2 linked regions of the Homo sapiens genome follow. The protein of the gene in region 2 interacts with the protein of the main gene of each other region in a pairwise test. Each region holds a gene or a part of one and is shown on either strand. Other genes may lie near its edges.

Evidence for each region.
Region 1: the proteins of HOXA2 (region 2) and NDE1 interact in a two-hybrid assay, tested with the Homo sapiens proteins (one large-scale study listed by BioGRID).

Annotation. Positions count from the first base shown.
Region 1 is NC_000016.10:15,653,245-15,656,744, reverse strand, and holds part of NDE1 (nuclear distribution protein nudE homolog 1), read right to left. Parts: intron 1-3,500. UniProt on the Homo sapiens protein: Required for centrosome duplication and formation and function of the mitotic spindle. Essential for the development of the cerebral cortex.
Region 2 is NC_000007.14:27,099,884-27,103,831, reverse strand, and holds HOXA2 (homeobox protein Hox-A2), read left to right. Parts: upstream 1-1,148; 5' UTR 1,149-1,331; coding exon 1,332-1,722; intron 1,723-2,366; coding exon 2,367-3,106; 3' UTR 3,107-3,478; downstream 3,479-3,948. UniProt on the Homo sapiens protein: Sequence-specific transcription factor which is part of a developmental regulatory system that provides cells with specific positional identities on the anterior-posterior axis.

The DNA of each region.
Region 1 (3,500 bases), on a different chromosome or scaffold from region 2:
ACATGGTAAAACCCCATCTCTGCTAAAAATACAAAAATTAGCTGGGCATGGTGGCACATGCCTGTAATCCCATCTACTCAGGAGGCTGAAACAGAAGAAACTCTTGAACCCGGGAGGTGGAGGTTCCAGTGAGCAGAGATCCTGCCACTGCACTCCAGCCTGGGTGACAGAGCAAGACTCCATCTCAAAAAAAGAAAAGAGTAATAATAATAATAATAATAATAAAAGAAAAGAGCCTCTTAAAACACTGTTATCTTGGCCAGGAAGGTTTAAAAACTTAATCCTCAGGAAAGAAATGAATCTGAGATGCTTTAGGAGGTGCGTCTATTGTGGGGCAGGTTCTAATTACAACGGGCCAATGGGAGGGATCTGGTTTTGGATTTCAAGGACTGAGGAGAAAATAAGCAGAGAACTGGATTTGTATCACAGCCTGCAAAATCTTTCACTCCAACCAAGAGACAAAAACCACAGGAACAGCATTTCAACCAAAAACTCTTACATTTTAAAAGCAATCCTTAGGGAAGAGAGATGCTGGAAGCAAAGAAGGAAGAAGTAACAGCTGCACTTCACTTTATCATAAAACAGCAATCTTTTTTTTTCTTTTTCTTTATTATTATTATACTTTAAGTTTTAGGGTACATGTGCACAATGTGCAGGTTAGTTACATATGTATACATGTGCCATGCTGGTGTGCTGCACCCACTAACTCGTCATCTAGCATTAGGTATATCTCCCAATGCTATCCCTCCCCCCTCCCCCCACCCCACAACAGTCCCCAGAGTGTGATGTTCCCCTTCCTGTGTCCATGTGTTCTCGTTGTTCAATTCCCACCTATGAGTGAGAATATGCGGTGTTTGGTTTTTTGTTCTTGCAATAGTTTACTGAGAATGATGATTTCCAATTTCATCCATGTCCCTACAAAGGACATGAACTCATCATTTTTTATGGCTGCATAGTATTCCATGGTGTATATGTGCCACGTTTTCTTAATCCAGTCTATCATTGCTGGACATTTGGGTTGGTTCCAAGTCTTTGCTATTGTGAATAATGCCGCAATAAACATACGTGTGCATGTGTCTTTATAGAAGCATGATTTATAGTCCTTTGGGTATATACCCAGTAATGCGATGGCTGGGTCAAATGGTATTTCCAGTTCTAGATCCCTGAGGAATCACCACACTGACTTCTACAATGGTTGAACTAGTTTACAGTCCCACCAACAGTGTAAAAGTGTTCCTATTTCTCCACATCCTTAAAAGTATAAGATTTTTGCCTTTGCCATTCAAAAATGTCAGAGAGAGGCCGGGCACGATGGCTCACGCCTGTAATCCCAGCACTTTGGCAGACTGAGGTGGGCAGATTGCTTGAGCCCAGGAGTTTGAGACCAGCACAAGGTGAACCCCGTCTCTACTAAAAATACACAAATCAGCAGGGCGTCACGATGCACGCCTGTAGTCCCAGCACTTTGGGAGGCTGAGGTGGGTGGATTGCTTGAGCCCAGGGGTTCAAGACCAGCCTGGGCAACATGGTGAAACCCTGTCTCTACTAGAAACACAAAAATTAGCCAGGTGTGGTAGAGCGCACCTATAATTCCAGCTACTTGGGTGGCTGAGGCCCAAGAATTGCTTGAACCCAGAGGCAGAGGTTGCAGTGAGCAGAAATTGTACCACTGCACTCCAGCCTGGGCACAAGAGCAAGACTCTGTCTCAAAAAATAAATAAATAAACAACATGAAAACGTCAGAAAGTTCTATTGCAGTACTCTCTGTGGCAGAAAGCAGGCAACATGACTTGCAAGGGTTCTCTTATTTTATCAGCATTAAGTACTGAATTTGACCTTCTGTTTGCTGTGTGCTAGACATTTCAAAAATTGTTTGCAAACATTATCTTCTTTAAGCTGTGTGACTGTAAGAGATGGCTAAACAGGACAACCACTCTGTTTCTTGGAAGCAGAAACACCGTATGCCTTGGCCATCTCTAAATGTGCATGTGAGCAGCAGAGGCAAACTAGATCCAAGTTCAAGGGATCTTTGCATTCAAGTCCAAGGCTTCCCAGGGGTTGCAAACTGACTGACTGCAGATCAGATTCACTTGTTTCATTTGGTCCAGTTTTGTTTTTTTTTTTTTTGTTTTTTTTTTTTTTGAGTCGGAATCTCTTTCTCTGTTGCCCAGGCTGGAGTGCAGTGGTGTGATCTCAGCTCACTGCAACCTCTGCCTCGCAGCTTCAAGCGATTCTCCTACCTCAGCGTCCCTAGTACCTCGGATTACAGGTGCATGCCACCACGACTGGCTAATTTTTTGTATTTTTAGGAGAGACGGGGTTTCGCCACGTTGGCCAGGCTGGTCTCGATCTCCTGACCTCAGGTGATCTGCCCACCTAGGCCTCCCAAAGTGCTGGGATTACAGGTGTGAGCCATTGCACCCGGCCCTCACATAGTGTTTTAAAAGGCACTGTAATAGGCAAGTGTTAATGCCTGGTCTCAGTATATACAACTTTGCACCTGCTATCTTAAAAATGCACCCCACATGCATTTATTTCATCTGTGTGCCACTAACCTGCGTTCTTAATACGCCACCACACCATCATGCCCCAGCAGCTCTGTAGACAAATCTGATGGGATCATGCAAGGAACAATGACAAACTAGGACCCAGTGGTACAAAAAGTATCTATTTTGCACAACAGAGATCTATGCCTCCTTCAAAAATTTGTTTCCGGCCGGGTGTGGTGGCTCATGCCTGTAATCCCAGCACTTTGGGAGGGTGAGGCAGGCAGATCACCTGAGGTCAGCAGATAAGAGACCAGCCTGGGCAACATGGTGAAACCCCATCTCTACCAAAAACACAAAAAAATTAGCCAGGTGTGGTGATGCACACCTGTGGTCCCAGCTACTCAGGAGGCTGAGGTGGGAGGATCACTTGAGCATGGGAGGCGGTGGTTGCAGTGAGCCGAGATCGCCCCACAGCACTCCAGCCTGTGTGACAGAGCGAGAACCCGTCTCAAAAAAAAAAAATTGTTTCCACATGCTTTTTTTTTTTTTGCATGTTTTACATGATTAAAGCTAACAAAAAAGTCTGAAAATACACTCGAGACACACACCTCTGATTTTAAAACTCTGGAAAAAAGCAAAGCAATCTCTTTCAGCTTTCCTCTGAGAGAAGAAACCCAGCACTGCTAGTCAGGAGCAATAAACATACAGAAACCATCGATAATTACTCAACACCCTTCTCCATCCCCACTCCATATCCTTCCCAATCAAAACAAACAGAAGAGCAGGAGGGAAGAGAAAGAAGCTGCCAAATGTCCACACATGCTCCGACAGCCAGGACGCAGGCTTTGCATTTTGCAGGAGTGACATCACTGGGGCAACATCAGTCAAGAGTCAGCAAGCCTGGCTTCTGTCTTTGTGCTTTCCAAGTTTACAATGATCAACCTACAAAAATACTTAGGCAGGCAAGGACCCATGTTCAAAGATGCACACCATCATTCACGAATGTGGAAA
Region 2 (3,948 bases):
GGGTATGAAACCCAGAATGCCAGGAGCCGCACGCGCCTGCTCGGGGCGGCATTTCTTTGGCTGGCCGCCGCCCTGGCTACGGGGATTTGGACACATGGACCTGGGGTTGTTGTCTCGCTTGGCACATGCATCTTTCTCCAGCCACTCCTGAGAAGTTGATGGCGCAGGAAGGTCGGGAAGCTTCGAGAGCCGCCTCCCGTTTTCCGCTTCCCGCCGGAGCCAGATGCAAAGCTGCCGTGGAATAGCCTGCTAACAATGGGCCCGGGGCGCAGACTCTGGGCTGGACACTGGGAGGGGGGCGAGAGGCTGAGGGGAGAAGGGGAGGCGGACAGAAGAGAGAGGGAGGGAGAAAGGGGGAGAAGAGGAAAAAGAGGGAAAGGGACAGACAGGAAGGAAAACAGACCGAGAGAGATCAGTTTTGAGATCCAGGAACTGCTTTTAGGAAAAGTGAAGGAGGAAAAGGGAAAGAAAAGGAAGACCCCTTCCCAACCAAAATCTTTCCTTTCTTCTCTCTTTTCTGTCTTCTCTTTCTCCATCTCTCAAACTCTCTCTTCTTCCCTCTCTCTTTATTCTCCCTCTCTCATCTCCTCTCTTCCTCTGCTCCTTTCTCCTGCTTTAACAGAACTTATGTGGCTGGGACGCAGGGCCCTCGGGTGTCAAAACTTTGAAGATTAATGGATTACTTTGTTAATGACTGCAGGCGTCAGACTGAGGTGCTTAAATGATTTGTGAGGTGCGAGGCGTCTTCCCGACAGTCCCAAACAATGCGCGGAGTGTGCGGGGGAGGCAGAGGGCAGCCACCGGCGGGACCGACAGCAGGGCTTACACTCGCGCACATTCACACACACACACACACACTCCCAGGCACACACACTAGATAGATCCTTGCAGATCAGGAGGCACGCAGGCACCCTCGCCCCCACGTACTCCGGGACATCCCCACCCACACCAACATATATGTATTTTTGCTCTGAAAAAAGTGTAAATAAAGCCTCGCTGGCCCCCAATGAGGCGTTCCTTCCCGACTTTTTTGGATCAATCAAACAGACAGTGGCTTCTTTTGATTAAAGCCCAAATTGTCATTGGGCAGAAGCAATCATGTGACAGCCAATTCGGTCCAATTTCAACCTTGTCTCCATGAATTCAATAGTTTAATAGTAGCGCGGTCCCCATACGGCTGTAATCAGTGAATTAGAAAAAAAACACCCTAGCAGCGATATTCTATGATAGATTTTTTTTCCTCTGCGCTCGCCTTTTTCCTAGGCCTTGCCCCCCCAAAGCCCCTCCAAAAGAGGGAACTTTTTCTCTGAGGGGGCTCCAAGGAGAAGGCCATGAATTACGAATTTGAGCGAGAGATTGGTTTTATCAATAGCCAGCCGTCGCTCGCTGAGTGCCTGACATCTTTTCCCCCTGTCGCTGATACATTTCAAAGTTCATCAATCAAGACCTCGACGCTTTCACACTCGACACTGATTCCTCCTCCTTTTGAGCAGACCATTCCCAGCCTGAACCCCGGCAGTCACCCTCGCCACGGCGCTGGCGGCCGCCCCAAGCCGAGCCCCGCGGGCAGCCGCGGCAGCCCGGTGCCCGCCGGCGCCCTGCAGCCGCCCGAGTACCCCTGGATGAAGGAGAAGAAGGCGGCCAAGAAAACCGCACTTCTGCCGGCCGCCGCCGCCGCCGCCACCGCCGCAGCCACCGGCCCTGCTTGCCTCAGCCACAAAGGTCAGTCCAAAGACTTGGCCCCAGGTCTCTGGGACCCTCTTCCTTCTCCGGGCTGCCCCGAGAGTGGCTGTGGGGGGAGGGGAGAGTGGGCTGGGAGAGAAGGAGGAGAGGGAGAGATGCTTGGTTGCCTTGTCCCTGCCCCTGTGGGTTCAGGAGTGGGTTTGATGGAGAGGAAAGGGGATCCTGCGCTCTACAATGAGACATATATATTTTTAGGAAGTGGGGGGAAACTTTCCCGAACTTGTGTAATGTGGGATGATTTATTTGAGTTGGAACTGACCTCCTCCTGTCTAGTTGTCCTAGAGTTTGGCTTTTTGACAGTAATGAAGAGTGATAGATCGCTCTTGCTCAGCTAAGCAGCTGACGCATTAATTATAAATTGTGTTGTGGCTAATATAAAGTTTGCTCCCGGATGAAGAGGTTGGGGGGAGCCACAGGCATGAATTCGATAGAGATGGAGGAGACGGGGTCTGCCCAGGCTGGGCTCCCAGGAAAGGCAGCACAATAGCTCTACTGCATCCAGGGGCGGCCATTTTGTTGCAGTTGATCTTTTCTGCTATATTTATTCTCCAGTGGAATAACCCCGCTCGGACCCCTCCACCTCCAACTGTGCGTGTGTCTCTTGTTGGTTTCCCTTTCCGCAGAATCCCTGGAAATCGCCGATGGCAGCGGCGGGGGATCGCGGCGCCTGAGAACTGCTTACACCAACACACAGCTTCTAGAGCTGGAAAAAGAATTTCATTTCAACAAGTACCTTTGCAGACCCCGAAGGGTGGAGATTGCAGCGCTGCTGGATTTGACTGAGAGACAAGTGAAAGTGTGGTTTCAGAACCGGAGGATGAAGCACAAGAGGCAGACCCAGTGCAAGGAAAACCAAAACAGCGAAGGGAAATGTAAAAGCCTTGAGGACTCCGAGAAAGTAGAGGAGGACGAGGAAGAGAAGACGCTCTTTGAGCAAGCCCTTAGCGTCTCTGGGGCCCTTCTGGAGAGGGAAGGCTACACTTTTCAGCAAAATGCCCTCTCTCAGCAGCAGGCTCCCAATGGACACAATGGCGACTCCCAAAGTTTCCCAGTCTCGCCTTTAACCAGCAATGAGAAAAATCTGAAACATTTTCAGCACCAGTCACCCACTGTTCCCAACTGCTTGTCAACAATGGGCCAGAACTGTGGAGCTGGCCTAAACAATGACAGTCCTGAGGCCCTTGAGGTCCCCTCTTTGCAGGACTTTAGCGTTTTCTCCACAGATTCCTGCCTGCAGCTTTCAGATGCAGTTTCACCCAGTTTGCCAGGTTCCCTCGACAGTCCCGTAGATATTTCAGCTGACAGCTTAGACTTTTTTACAGACACACTCACCACAATCGACTTGCAGCATCTGAATTACTAAAAACATTAAAGCAAAACAAAGCATCACCAAACAAAAACTCCTTTGACCAGGTGGTTTTGCCTTCTTTTATTTGGGAGTTTATTTTTTATTTTCTTCTTGACCTACCCCTTCCCTCCTTTAAGTGTTGAGGATTTTCTGTTTAGTGATTCCCTGACCCAGTTTCAAACAGAGCCATCTTTTACAGATTATTTTGGAGTTTTAGTTGTTTTAAACCTAACTCAACAACCCTTTATGTGATTCCTGAGAGCAGTATGAGGCCTGCAAGAAAGTGATCATATAATTGTATCTTCACTTTCTTTTTATTTTTGTATTACATTGGGATGCATTGTCATGCATATTTTTTGTAGAATAAATTCTCCTTTGCTATAAGTAGCTTATTTTTCTCCCCCTCTTTTTTCAAGGCTCATAACGGGTTCTTTTTCTTCTTTTAGTCTAACTTCGTAAATAAAATTCGTCACAATTTATCCTCTTTTTTCAATTTTAATACATTTATTAAGGCGGCATGTTCAAAGTCTTCAATGGACAGCAACAAAACAGAAAGCCAAAAAATGACTAGGGCTTCTAATAAGTGTTTTTTCTTTCTTTTTTGCTTCTTCTTCTCCTCTTTCTTTTTAAAGGATTTGATTTTCAGTGCACAGGTTCAAGCCATAGATTTAAATTGGTAATAGAGGCAGAATTGGACAGTCTAAGATTTGGGCCAAGCCCAAGCTCTTGAAAGTGGAGAAATAAAGTGCCTACAGAAACCCCCAACTCCAGGAATGAGTAACACGGAGTTTCTTTAATAAGCTACCAGTCTCCAGGTCAATAACTAAGTTATCAACAATTCATTTGTTTATACACTT